Linked DNA regions of Homo sapiens. The protein of the gene in region 1 purifies or fractionates together with the protein of each later gene. This does not show direct contact. Each region holds a gene or a part of one and is shown in the gene's direction. Other genes may lie near its edges.

Region 1 (3,612 bases):
CTCCATCTCAAAAAGAAAAAAATGCAGAATGTTAAACTCCCCCCAAATCTGCAGAATCAGAATTTGCATTTTAACGAGACTCCCAGGTGATTCATATGCACATTGAAGTTCTAACAGCACTACCTTAAAGCACTATGATTCTTTTCCTCCATAGCTCTTGCCACAACCTGCAATTCTAATTACACATTTATTTATATTTTTTAAATGGCTGCCTTAATGACTAAAGCATAAAATCCATAGGATGTCTTTTAGTGACTAACGTAGTTCCTACCACAGACCAGGTGCTCATTCAAGGTGTGCTGCATGAATGATTCTCTAGGACTTCCCGAACTGCTAGCAGCCTCTGCAATGATGGCTGTACCAGGTTTGCTATTCTAGCCTCTCTCACTGTCCCTGTATATGTCCCTGGGCAGCTTGATGAATTTGATGATTGTGGTAAGACATTTCAATGCAGATATTTTTCTTAGTGCATTTGCACATCATGCTAATCAATGGTCACGCTTGGCAGTAAGTTGTAAGTTGTTTATTAAATTTTAAAATGTTGTGTGTTGTCTCACAAGGGCAACATAAAGGGGAATTTTGTGATATCAAGTTTTCCTGCAAACTGCATGCATAACTGAAAGACTACAAAAACTTAGCTTTGTTAGGTTAAAAGCTTTCAACTAAGGCAACAAAGTCGTAGACTGTTACAGTAGGAAGGGCCTTCCAGGACAAGTTTGCCTCCCTTCCCCTGAGAAGGTAGGGCCCAAATGTTTAAGCTGACTTCCCCCATCTCCAGATTGGTGCTGTGCCAGGGCTTTGCCTTCAGGAGACCTCCTTGACTCACTACCAACCTCTTGCACTAGAGAAGAGATCCATTCATAAGAAAACAAGCTTTCAGCGGAAGGCAAATGACAGACCTCCCAGGGAAATGTTACAATAATAGGGGAACTCCAGATGGTCCTAGTGTTCATACAGAACACTAAGAAAATAAGCTGTGGGCGGCTGCTAATTTCTTGCTTTGGTAGAGGTTAGGAAGTTGGTTTTTTCGCATACACACGCTCACACCTCTCTAGGTCTTTACTAATATTTTAATTCAATGCAATACAGGAGATTCCAACCTGGGCAGGTCAAAAGATGAATAAAATACTTCATTCCTTATTGGCAGAATATTGTATGGGTGTCTCCATGGCTGGAGAGAAAGGGGAGGGACAATCAGGGTGTGAAACTTAGTGTCTGAAGAATTTATTAGGGGAAAAGAACTGTGCCTCTCTGCTTCTGTTAACTCCTTGTTGAGAGTCCTTGAACTAGAACCTCCCTTTAGTCACCTTCAATCCCCAGCCCAGGATTCCCTCCTTCAAAAGACAATCTGTTTCTATCAACCTCTTATTTGTGTAAATATTTATGTATATATTTATTACAGAATAAATAATATACTATGTAAATGTTTAAATATATAATATGCATTTGTATGTATACTACATGTGTATACATATTTGTATATTTAAATATAAACTTGTAATAAATCCATAAGGATGGGGACCCAATTTAATTATGTATGGTGTCCTCACAATGCTTGGCATATAAACACACAATTAATTCAGAATTTCCAACCACAGGAGACATAGAGATGTACCTTCCCAGGTATGTTTACAACATACGTTCACAGATGAATCAAACATGGAAAAAAAAAAAACACATCTACTTTTATGATATACTTGATTATTCTCATGTTGACCAGAAGGAAAAAAAAAGAAAAAAACACCCAAACATATGGAGGGGGGAAAAGCACCAGATTGGGAGTTGAGTCCTGGCTCTAGCCGAGTGTGATAGCTCACACCTGTAATCCCAGCACTTTGGGAGGCTGAGGCGGGTGGACCACAAGGTCAGGAGTTCGAGACCAACCTGGCCAATATGGTGAAACCCTGTGTCTACTAAAAATACAAAACTTAGCTGGGTGTGGTGGTGGGTGCCTGTAGTCCCAGCTACTCTGGAGACTGAGGCAGGAGAATCACCTGAACTGGGAGGCGGAGGTTGCAGTGAGCCAAGATAGTGCCACTGCACTCCAGCCTGGCAACAGAGCAAGACTCCTTTTTTTAATTAGCTGAGTGTAGTGGTGTGCACCTGTACTCCCAGCTACTCAGGAAGCTGAGGCAAGAGGATCGCTTGAACTCAGGAGGATGAAGCTGCAGTGACCCATGATCATACCACTGCACTCCAGCATGGGTGACAGAGTAAAACTTTGTCTAAAAAAAAAAAAAAAGTCCCAGCTCTGGTCCCTGATCTTCTATAAATTAACTATGTGGCCCTAGGCAAGTCATTTTATCTCACTCAACCCCGTGTCTCTTGCCTGTGGAACGGGGACAGTAATCCTCATCTTGCATTTCTAATAGATTGTCAAACAAATGGATAGAAAGCCCATTGGAAACTACATCAGTGAATTAATTTTTAAAATTCAGGTGGAGGATGAATTGTAAATTGCACAGTACTTTAAGGACAACAAAATGAAAAAGAAAAAAAAAAGTTGTTTCAACTGAATGTCACACCTCATGCTGCTTTTTTCTTTCTTTTCTTCCAGGACTCCATTCCCAACTCACCTGACAACGTCCCCCTCAAAGGAGGTAAGATCTTGGAATTAGGTGTAAATGTGTAGTAAGTCATCTAGATAAATGCCATAAAGTGTGAAACCTGATTATCAACCAGAAACAACTCTATGACATGACCCAACAGTAAAGTGGGTAGGGGTGGAGGCAAGGGCTGTTCAGGACTGAGCTGATGCACCTGAATTCATCTTAGCAGCTCCTGAACTCATCCCCACAAGTCTCCCACCAGCTCTTGACACTCCCACTAATGAAAATTCTACCTCTGGCATAGGCAGGACTGCAAGGCAGTGTTGTGTTAAATGCTTGAAACCTGAAATCAGATAAATGGGGGAATGAATCTTGGCTTGACTTCCCACTGGGGAGCCTCAACTCCTCATCTGTTAAATGGGAATAATAATAATACTCACCTCATCAAGGTATTGGAGAAGCCATTCAGATCTCATCTGTAAATTGCTTGGCATGGCAACCAGCACATAGTAATCATTAAATAACTAGTAATAGCTAAAATGCATAATGAAGTCAAGGACTTGTGAAAACAGACTTCCTCCTCACTCCTATATTTCCAATCATTGAAGTCACTAATTAACACGTCGTCTCTACTAGCCTCAGAGAGATGATATGCCGAGTTCAGTTAACATCGATGATGAGAAATTTTCAGATGACCTGATTAATGTTTTTATTGCTCAGAGAAGGAAAAGGAAGACCCAGAGAGGGAAAGTGAAGTATCTCGTCCAAGGTCATACAAAGCCAAGCCTAGAACCCAGAAAGATGTCCTCATCTCTGATACAGTGTCTTTTCTGCCCAAGAACACCAACTCCCATCTCAGTCCTGTAACCTTTAGAACCTAGATGGCAAACACAGCTGGATAGCCAGAAAGCTCAGAGCAAAAAGTAAGGAAGTGAGTTAATGTAGGCACCAGGGTAGTGGCACAAGAGTGTCCTTGAGACCAGAGGACACAGATGACTGGACACAGCTCCTCACACTCACAGCATCACACTTGGAGTGTCCTTCAAGTTTCCCTTGCCCATGC
Region 2 (3,612 bases), on another chromosome or scaffold:
TTAATCTCTCTGAACCTGAATTGTCTCAACACGGAGTGAGCCTGCCTTCCTAAGGCCCTTTCCAACACCAATATTCTACGATGGCAGTGAGAAGGAAATATAGTGTGTAAGGGAAGGATTATTATAAACAATCTTCTTGATTTTTTTTTTTTTTAACTTAGAGATTGAGAAAGGTTGTTTCTAATTATTGCTTGACTGGATGAAAGGTATAATCAAAATATGATGCTAAATTAGTGTGTTTTTCCTAGACTATGAAATTCAGAGGCAAATCAATGAACTTGAGAATGGAGGTGAAATTCTGAACGAAACACGCTCATTTCATCACAAGCTGGGGTGAGTTCGCATTGCTGAGCGTCCTGACCACAGCCGGGGGTGGTGCGAGAGGGCTGGGCTCAGCCACTGACCAGCCATGTGACCTTGAAGGAGGCACGTAGCGTCTCCACTTTTAGGTTTCCTCATTAGTACAATTAGAAAAGTACTGTACCCTTCATGCCTGTAATCCCAGCACTTTGGGAGGCAATGGGCAGATCACGAGGTCGGGAGATCGAGACCATCCTGGCTAACATGGTGAAATCCTGTCTCTACTAAAAAAATACAAAAAATTAGCCGGGCATGGTGATGGGTGCCTGTAGTCCCAGCTATTTGGGAGGCTGAGGCAGGAGAATGGCATGAACCCGGGAGGCGGCGCTTGCAGTGAGCTGAGATGTTGCCACCGCACTCCAGCCTGGGCGACAGAGCGAGACTCCTCTCAAAAACAAAAAAGAAGGCCAGGCGCCGTGGCTCACGCCTGTAATCCCAGCACTTTGGGAGGCCGAGGCGGGCGGATCACGAGGTCAGGAGATCGAGACCATCCTGGCTAACATGGTGAAACCCCGTCTCTACTAAAAATACAAAAAATTAGCCAGGTGTGGTGGCGGGCGCCTGTAGTGCCAGCTACTCGGGAGGCTGAGGCAGGAGAATGGCGTAAACCCAGGAGGCGGAGCTTGCAGTGAGCCGAGATAGTGCCACTGCACTCCAGCCTGGGCGACAGAGCAAGACTCCGTCTCAAAGAAAAAAAAAAAAGAAAAGTACTGTACCCTATAGGGATATAATATACCCTAGGGCTGCCAGGAGGCTTGAAGTGACCCAGACTGTGCCCAAGGGCTTCGTTTTAGGCCCTTTCCTTCTCTGCTTCCAGCTTACCTGCCTTGTGGCAAGAATTTTTACTTCCTTAATCTATCAGATCTTTCCCAGCTGAAGCTAGAGGCGGAACAGAGTGAAGACCTGGTTGTAGAGATGCCTTATTTTTGTTTAGATAACTTGGGCCTTAATTTTCTCACTCAGAATTTTGAGCATTGTATACTTAAAGCAGAATACTGAAAAAAGCTCAAAAGCCGAGTTTGAGCTGGCTGAAAGATGGCTACATTGAAGTCATTTCCTTTAAAAAAAAAAAAAAAAGATCATTCTGTACATTTCGCTTTCTTTATGATTGTTTTTTGAATGTATTCATTTAAGGTTTCCCCATGGAAGTCCACAGAGTTTGATTTTGCCTGTGCCCCTTATTGGTAGGGGAGCCCTTCCCCACATATAGGCTGGCCAGTGCTGCTTTCAATGTTTAATGTTTTCTTATTTAACTATTGCAGGTGCACCATGTCAATGAGAGACAAAGAAGGAAAACAGGACTACAGGTGGTTACTCCTTATGGCAAAATACCGCTATATATCGGGGGCTGGGGCGTATTTCAAGTTCATTTAAAGTTCAACATAATGATCCTGAACAATTTTTAGAAACCACTTTTTGTCATTGTTGTAACATGATGGGACATCTAGACTTCCTCTTTGATATGCATACCGAGAGAAGTACTAGTTTCTTGATTTGGTAGCCTCAGATCTGGTGCCTTGTTTGACTGATTCAGCTTTTGGAAGAACTTGTTCATCCACTGCTGTGTCAAAGTTGTCATAGTTGAGCTAGGAGGATGGCTGTAGAGGTTGGGGCCTAGGCTGTTCTTATTCTAATGTTCAGTAACTGATTCAGTAATACGCTGAATGAAGCTCCTTGAGAAGAAATGAGAAAAGAGATGTTGATAGCGTATGTTGATGGTAGTTCCCTTGAACCTCATATGATGCTATTTCATGATAAATTAAGTTGAACTACTTAATATGAGACCCACAAATAAAGCAAATGCTAAGAACAGGCATAAGATAATTGAAACTTTTATTTTTTTCTCATTGAGTTTAGCAGGTTGAAGTTTTAAGCAACAAAGTTGTGAGATCGGCCACCTTTCCTTTGTGAAGGGCAGAAAGATGCAAATGTAGCTATTATCAATGAGGATCAAAATTTGCATGTTTATGTGGGAAAGAAGAAACTCATAAACGCTTAGCATGAACCTCACCCCAAGAACTCCCATTGTCTGTCTGCTAGAGTCAAAATTATTTTAATTAACCGTGAACTTCCCGGGTGAGTCTGTTCTCCCAGGGGCCCACTTTATTCCTGAGTGTTGCTCCCTCCCCTGTTGGTGCGCCTTCCCCTGAGTGTGGAGTCCGGCTTTCCATCCGCCCGTGGCTTCAGCATGATGCCTCAAATGATAGTGAGCTGCAGGAAGCTTCCCCTGGGTTTCCTCTTGCCCTCAGAAGCCAGACTAACTCACAGAAGAGATCTGGCAGTGAGCCGATGGGTAGCGTGTGCTTCGAATCCATTCCCTCCAAACCACCACTTCTTCTGAATACCCTGCTTTTTCTACATAAGCCCTTTGACAAAAATGGGCAGAGAGTAACCATTAGTGCTGGACGAGAACAGAGGGAGGGACATCTTGTTTCATAAGATTACATGCAATGGTGCAGCTTTGACACTTAAAAAAATTAATTCCCTTCATTTTTTAGAGCAGTTTTAGCTTTACAATAAAATTGAATGGAACGTCCAGAGTTCTCACATACTCCCGCTCCCCACTCTCCCCCCAGAGTCTCCTGTTAATGTGCCACAGTAATGCAAGATGCTCATTTGTTACAATGATGAAACCAATCACACTTCCTTATTGGCTAGAGTCCATGGTTTACACTAGGGTTCCTTGTTTGTGTGGTACATTGCGTGGGTTTTGACATATGCACAATGACATGCATCCACCATCGTGTCACACTGAGAAGTTCCACTGCATGCCCTGTGCTCCACCTCTTCATCCCTCCCTCCCTCTTCTCCAGCTGTCACATTTTGTTTAGGCAAAATCTATTCATTTCTTCTATTTCTCAAGGGTAAATTTTTTTCCTTTCATTTTTTATTTATGTAAATGCTGCTAAAAATAGTAGAAATGTTGAAATGGGGGGAAAGTCATCTTTCCTTCTAATAAGCAAATTGCTCTCATTTGGTCCTGTTTTTTCCAGCCTGTGTCTTTATGAAGACATAGTCCTGCATACATATGGATGTTTCTGTCAACAGTGGATTACGTATGCTACAGGAGTCCCATAAGATTGTCATATGGCATTTTTACCGTCCCTTTCTTGTTCAGACATGCTTAGATACACCAATGCCATTGTGTTACAGTTGCCTGCAGGATTTGGGACACTCAGTAGCCTTGGAGCAGTAGGCTACTCCACATGGCCTATCTGTAGTAGGCTGTACCATCCAGGCTCATGTGAGTGC
Region 3 (3,612 bases), on another chromosome or scaffold:
ATTGGAAAACCAAAGCCATTTAGTCCCAACCCCCTGTGGCCAGCAGCTGTTCCTGAGGGCCCTGTGCACTGTGGCCATGCCCGTCACTTGCTGGTGACCTTGGTTAGTGCCCCTGGCTGCTGAGGAGATGACAGTGGGCAGGTGGTCCATATGATCACGGGACCCCTAAAGCAGGGCAAGGTGGGGAGAGGCCCCGGCCTCCTCATGGGCCAGGCAGTGCGGGCAGTGGTTTGACCTCCCACACCCACCCAGCAGGCTCCCTTGCGGGCAGACTTGAGTGTGAGGGTGCAGGACAGGCAGGGGCACCCCATGGTGAGGATGCTGGGGGCCTGCTGACCTGCTCACGCATGTCCGCAGTGAAGGGGGGGTCCTCCAGACATTTTCTGTCCTTTTCCTAAGCAGGGCGGGTCAGACCCTCAGCTCCCCAGGGCCCAGGCCCCACACTCCCCTGTGCTCTAAAAGGGTGGGAGGTGAAACCTGAGGAGCGAAGCAGGCGCCCCCAGGGCAGGACCCCTGTGCTGTGCTGAGAGATAGGGCCTGTCCTGAGTCACTTAGGCCTGAACCACCCCCCTCCAGGGGGAAGGGAGAAAGGAAATCTGTTCCCATCCCAGAACGCCTGGCCGGAAAGGGCCTGAGAGGTCACTTGGTCTGACCTGCTCATTTTGCAGATGGGGAAGCCGAGGCCCAGAAAGTGCTAAGCAGGCAGGTAGTGGCAGAGCCAGAATGAGAAGCTTCAGGCTCTGGGGCTGGATCCCCTCCTCTCCCCAATACTGCGGCAGTCCGCAGGGACTGACCTCTAACCTCACTCTTGGCCGTATGTGGACACCACGGAGGAAGGATTAAATGGTGAACATTGGAGGCAGAGACTGGCCCCGGGGCTTTTGCATTATCTCCAAGGGTGAGCAAGGGCCCGGGGGAAGGCATAGGAGGTAGGGAGGAGAAGAGACAGGAAATTGACCAAGCTCACCTGGCTGGCTCTCGTCAGTGCTCTGGGTAAAGCAGTTTTGTTGAATTTTATACTCACACACCTACGTCCACCACCCCACACATGTGTGGCCTGGAGATGGGTTAGGTTGGCTTCTTGGCAGCCCTGCAGCTATGATCTTGAGCCCAATTCTGGCTCCCAGAGCAGATTTTTCCAGGATCCTTCTAGCCTGGCCTTCCGGACAGCCACATTTCTCTCCTGGCAGGAGCTCCCTGGTGGATGGAAGCTTCCGGGCTTCATCCTGTAGCTGTTACACCACTTGTAACAGCCTGCTTGACTGCCGGTCGGTGCCTGTGGGGGGCCAGTGTGGATCACAGGCCTAGAGCTCCCTGGCTGGGGACAAGCACCCATGCCCAGACCCCATGGGGCTCCTGGAGCCCCTGCCCCCATCAGTCACAGCCTCCTTGGTGGAGTTGAGCAGCCTTTACACAGCCTGCCCACCTCCTATTGTCCTCATTTTAGTCTACCCTCTGCACCTTGGTTTTAGAGTGGATCTTGTCACTCCCCAGCTCAAAAGCCTTCCCGGGCTCCCCATCGTCCAGAGCAGCAGCTCCCAGCCTGCCTGGTGTGTCTCAATTCCTACAGAGATTTCTAAGTCCCTAAAGTCACCGAGGCCAGGTCGGCACATCCCCTATCTTCTGTTTGAAAGAATATACCACGGTCACGGCTGGTATAAGCAAGAGGCCTAAGAGCTCAGATAACTCAAAATGCACCTGCTGAACCCACTGCATCTCTTTCGGTGGCTTCCAGGTGTGTCTTGGTTTCTCTTTCGAGGTGTGTCTCCTTTTCTCTTTCGAGGTTTGTCTCGGTTTCTCTTTAGCCAGGACGAGTCCGGGTGACCCTGGTGGGCCTTCCTTTCCCTTCTAGGTGTCATCTCCTTCCCTCCCTTTCCCCCAAGACTCCCTCCGGGCCCAGCCAGCAGGTGAAGCCTGACTTAGGGAAGGGGGGATTTCCAGGGGAGGGGCCCTGGCCCCCACTGACCCAGCATTGCTATCCACAGGAGGAGCAGCCCCCACAACATCGATCCAAGAGGGGGGGCTCAGTGGGCGGCGTGTGCTACCTGTCGATGGGCATGGTCGTGCTGCTCATGGGCCTCGTGTTCGCCTCTGTCTACATCTACAGATACTTCTTCCTTGCGCAGGTGAGGGGCCGGGCCAGGTAGGGGCAAGGCCTCGAGAAAGGGTCATGTCTAGAGAGGCATGGAGGGAAGTGTCTGCAAGGGGGCAGCAGGAAGCCCCAGACATGCCCTCAGGTGGGAGCGAGTGCCCGGCCAGCCCACAAGACTGGGGTGCCCCCTCCTCCTTGGGGCCTCCTTGGATGCAGGCCAGTCCCACATTTAGCCCCTTGTCCTGGGGAGCCAAGCATGAATCCGGGTGACAGCACTGGGCCCGCCCCACAGGGTCACCCTGGGGAATTCTCACCAGAAACTCAGATCTGGCAGAAACTGGAACTGTGATCCCCCTCCACAGCTCAGACCCTGCACCTGCAGGTCACGCTTTAAGGCTGACCTAACTGTGCTTGTGCATGGACATTTGGGTTACCAAACAAGAGAGGGAGAGGGGTGGGTACAGAGAGTCTCCACCACCTCCTTCCAGAAGCAGGAGTGTGTCCTTGCTGCCAACTATCATCCCCCTCCCCGGGGGACCTGGGCACAAAGCTGGGCCAACCCAGACCTGGGAGGGAGGGAGTGTCGCTGTGTGCTTGGAAATGAAAGTAGGTAAATTAAAAGGATAAACCTACGTACAACTCACAGAGAACCTCAGGGTGACAAAGAGGTGGGACTTGCCAGTCATTTATGACCCAAGTGACCTCCCACTCCTAAGCGTTTAACTTTGTTGTCCCCCAGTTTTTCCACGATGGAAATTGCTGAAGAGTTTGCATTCACGGGGCTTTCCCCTTGAAAGCTCAGCTCACATACACCCATCACCTTCCTTTCTGTGCAGCATCCCCCTGCCCCGCCCCACTCCCTCCATGGCCTGCGTCCCCCTCGTTCCAGGGTCCTGTGTGGGACCTTCCCACAGGCCTCTTCCTGTTGTGGCCCTACCCTAGGACCTGGGCCAGCATTTCCTGGTCCCCTCTGTTCCACCCTCGACTCACACCCTTCTCCCCACACCCCAATTCGTTGTGTGGACACCTCCCAGCAGCCCCTGGGTCTGTGCCCTGGGACAGTATTCGGGGTGTCCAGCCACTGTGGGATGCAGCCCCGGAGCCTCACCTTCCCTGGGCTCTCATCCCCGCACAGCCCACAGGAGCCCCCCATGCTGCGATGACGCATCCTCCCTGGAGAACTTGCACTGAATCAAACAGACGGTGGAATCCTGCCGATCCCAGGCCAGGCAGTCCCAAGCATGTATCTACAGGCCCCTCCAGGAGCCCCCTCCAGAAGTAAGAGTGGGCAGACTGGCCCGCCCGGCCATTCAGTTGATGGGATCACACCAGGCTGCCTGGCCTCCCTTACTGATGGAGTGACTGGACTGGCCCACCAGACACAGTGTCTGTCAAGGTTTCTCCAAGACAGGGGTCAGGGATATCCAGGAAGGGCGATGGCACTTGTCCGAGGCTGGATGTGGAGGTAACCGTGATAGGGGCACAAGACTCTTAACAGTGTTGCCTCCAGCTCCACCTCC
Region 4 (3,612 bases), on another chromosome or scaffold:
GGAAAGATTAGAAAAACACAAATAAGAAAACAAAAATTAGTCATAAATCAGTATCCGTAGATAATCACCAAATCTCACTGTTTCTAGTCAACTATATTTATGTTTCTAACTTTAAGACAAAAATGGTAGCATATCATATTATTCTGTTCTGTAGCATATATTTTTCATTTAACATTGTATTATGAGCATTTTCCAATGTTATTGGAAGGTTGAAAACCCCAATTATTAATGTCTTTATAGTATTTTTTCACATGGATAAACCATTATTTACTTGACCATTCCCCTGCTGTTGGATGCTTTAAGTTATTTGATTTTCCCCAAATTTTCACTCTTAAAAATAACACCGCTACCGGGCACATTGGCTCATGCCTGTAATCCTAGCACTTTGGGAGGCCGAGGCGGGCGGATTGCCTGAGCTCAGGAGTCCGAGACCAGCCCGGGCAACATGGTGAAACCCCGTCTCTAATAAAATACAAAAAATTAGCTGGGCGTGGCAGCATGCGCCTGTAGTCCCAGCTACTCGGGAGGCTGAGGCAGGAGAATTGCTTGAACCCAGAAGGCGAAGGTTGCCCAAGCCGAGATCACACCACTGCACTCCAGCCTGGGTGACAGAGCGAGACTCCATCTCTTAAAAAAAAAAAAAAAGAAAAAGAAGTAATAATAACACTTCTGTTACTTATACACAAATTTGGTTTTCATCTAAATCCCTTTTCCCCTTCTTCATGAATTGCATTTTTCCACTCTTAAGCATCCCTTTATTTTCTTCCCAGGGATCACAGAAGAGAAAGATGAAGAGCAAATATTTTTCCTTTACTTTGTGTATTTTCTACAAACTTGGGGCCTGCCTTGGTGGCTGTCAAAGTGTCCTTTTTTTAGAGCAGAAAGAGTTGCAGGAAAACATGATGTGGTGTTTCATGCAACATAGTGGAAATGCAGTTTTAGGTCATCAGGCTGCACTTCCTCTCAGTCCGCAGCCCCAGAGCTCTGTAACGAGGATCCCAGTTTTCCAGACTATTGTTATGGTACAGGTCCAAACCCGCCTGCCATCTGGGGAAATGTGTTGCTTGAGCCAAAGTAGGAGCTCCACACTGTGCTTAAATCATTTACCTGTCTAAATAGTTCTCACCTGAGGGGTGGGGGAGGGGTTAAACTCTCCCCTCATTTCAGATTTTTGGAGTTTAATATGGGCCAAGCAACAAGCCCAGTGTGCCTGTTAGTCCCTGAGGAACATTGGAAACTGTCTCTGGGGGGCTGGGGGAGAAATTTTACTTTCCCAAACTTTAGCCAGGATTTTGAATCCTTTCTTTTTGCTTTCCAATATCAGTAAATGCCTAACATGTATTCATTTTCCCCCTATATTAAATGCTTAAAGACTTTTCAATTCCATGTTCAGTTTTAAATCATGAAAAGTGGTTGTTGGTCATTTATGTTGTAACGTGATGGCTTTCCGTCTTCTTTAGGAATAAACATTACAACGGTGGCTATTCCATTGGTGCTCCTTGTTGTCCTGGTGTTTGCTGGAATGGGGATCTTTGCAGCCTTTAGAAAGTATGGTGACTTTACATGTTTAAATTTCTTCTCTAATTATGCGAACAATAAAAAACCAAAAAGTTTATTCTTCAGAAATGCATATGTACAAAAGCAGCATGGCTTCTTTCAAAATAAAATGTTAACTTATATTTTACAAACAAGTTAGATAAAAGTAGAAATGATCGAGTATTACTTTATTAATCTTTTTTTATAGACAGGGTCTCCCTGTGTCTCCCAGGCTGGAGTGCAGTGGTGAGATTGCTCAAACTCCTGGGCTCAAGCAAACCCCCTGCCTCAACCTCCTGAGTAGTTAGGATTACAAGCATGTGCCACCATGCCCAGCTAATTTTTTTATGTTTTGTAGAGATGGGATCTTGCTTTCTCACCCAGGCTGGTCTCAAACTTCTGGTCTCATTTGATCCTCCCAAAGCACTGGGATTATAGGCATGAGCCACCGCACCCCACCATGTATTACTTTATAAGCAGTTCTTGTCATTTAGAGACCTTTGGTAAAGACTTAACCTTTGAGTATTGTTGAAGTATCCTGAAATTGATATATTGCTTTAGAAGTATCTGTGCTTCTCCTCCCTGAAGAGTAAAAGGAATATTAAATAGGCTGCTTGGGGTATCACCAAGCTGCCCCGTAACTCAGCCTCCCCAAGCCTGTTTCCTTATGTATAAAATATAGTTTACCCAGATGAATTCTGAATCTCTTCCAGAACCCTGAGATCCATGTTTATTTTGACAAATGTTAGATGTTGGATCTAAACAAAAAATGGAAAGTATTCTGAAGTTTTCTCTTCTTATATTTTAAGCAACTTCAGAATCTATAATGTGTATATTAGTACAAATAGAATGAAGAATAGTTTCTGCCATCATGAGAGAAGGTACAAAAGTCTCTGGTTCAGGTAGATATTCATAAGTTAAAGCATGCCTTAGTGTAATGTGCTTGTATGAAATGCTTCTAAAGACACCCACAGTTTTGGACTGGAGTATAGTAGAGATGAAGTGAGACCATGTGGTCATGAGGAATTGCTTCAGGATGACTGCATGAGCTAGTGATAAACTTAATAAGGCACTGATTTCTAATATGCAAAATAAGATTAGTATATATTCTTCTAGTGAAATCTTGTGACCTTTCTTATAAATGAGATAAATTTATAGATAATTCTACATATTTGTATGATTTTCTAAAGCACATGGCAGCTGCCATCTCATTTAATTCTCACATCAACCCTATGAGGTAAGTACTATTATGATCCTTATGTTATATAGGGAGAGAGAGGCAGATACATTGGCTTATAAATATTCAGTAGGACTTTTTGTCTTGATAGGAAGAAGAAGAAAGGAAGTCCGTATGGATCAGCAGAGGCTCAGAAAACAGGTTGGTTGAAAACTCTATCTACAATTTTATCTGTCTTTGAGGAAGGGACAGGATCTGCTGATTGAAAGCATAAGGAGGCCAGTGGCCCACATTTATTTGGTTAAAAGACATAAGCCCTGTAGCCTTTAAAGTAGCATATCTATAAGGAAGAAATTTATTGTGTTCTGTCTCTTTATTTTAATGGCCACTTTACTTTTGTTCAATGTCATCCCCTATCATTTGTCAACATCCTTTTTTCTTGGCCACTGGAGTTTAGGCCACGACACTGTCTGCCATCAAGGAGGTATGACAAAAGCCTTATCAGTGAACTGAAGTAGGCCCGTGTTGTTAGCATCTGCAGGCCTGTGCTGTACTTTCCACCCTGAGAAAGTGAGAAAAAGACCAGGCAGGGCTGGTGTGCAGGTTTCAGATAATCCTGCACACCAGCCCCGTCTGGTCTTTTTCTCACTTTCCCAGACACAGGTGCCCAAGCAATGAGTTAGCCATGGTCCAGAGAGAGAGGGCAGTGGGGCAGGACCCCTGAGAAAGCTCAGGGACCATTTGAGACTCCACCTCCCCAGGGTCTAAACACCAGCTGCAGTGTCTCCTCTGCCTCACAGATGCCATGCCAGTGCAGATTGTCGGAGACCATACCCAGATGATCTCACAAAGGGAGAATCTGGGACCTGATGAGGGCAAAATACCTTTTAAAGGCACAG

What was found.
Region 2: the proteins of TNFSF8 (region 1) and GATB purify together in Homo sapiens (affinity purification with mass spectrometry; 2 studies listed by BioGRID and IntAct, with this or other methods). This does not show direct contact.
Region 3: the proteins of TNFSF8 (region 1) and ITM2C purify together in Homo sapiens (co-immunoprecipitation; 2 studies listed by BioGRID and IntAct, with this or other methods). This does not show direct contact.
Region 4: the proteins of TNFSF8 (region 1) and DCBLD1 purify together in Homo sapiens (co-immunoprecipitation; 3 studies listed by BioGRID and IntAct, with this or other methods). This does not show direct contact.

The regions. Positions count from the first base shown.
Region 1 is NC_000009.12:114,917,084-114,920,695, reverse strand, and holds part of TNFSF8 (tumor necrosis factor ligand superfamily member 8), read left to right. Parts: intron 1-2,557; coding exon 2,558-2,600; intron 2,601-3,612.
Region 2 is NC_000004.12:151,701,906-151,705,517, reverse strand, and holds part of GATB (glutamyl-tRNA(Gln) amidotransferase subunit B, mitochondrial isoform 1 precursor), read left to right. Parts: intron 1-248; coding exon 249-333; intron 334-1,622; coding exon 1,623-1,667; intron 1,668-3,612. UniProt on the Homo sapiens protein: Allows the formation of correctly charged Gln-tRNA(Gln) through the transamidation of misacylated Glu-tRNA(Gln) in the mitochondria. The reaction takes place in the presence of glutamine and ATP through an activated gamma-phospho-Glu-tRNA(Gln).
Region 3 is NC_000002.12:230,871,432-230,875,043, forward strand, and holds part of ITM2C (integral membrane protein 2C), read left to right. Parts: intron 1-1,985; coding exon 1,986-2,126; intron 2,127-3,612. UniProt on the Homo sapiens protein: Negative regulator of amyloid-beta peptide production. May inhibit the processing of APP by blocking its access to alpha- and beta-secretase.
Region 4 is NC_000006.12:117,541,664-117,545,275, forward strand, and holds part of DCBLD1 (discoidin, CUB and LCCL domain-containing protein 1 isoform 1 precursor), read left to right. Parts: intron 1-1,460; coding exon 1,461-1,548; intron 1,549-2,864; coding exon 2,865-2,914; intron 2,915-3,612.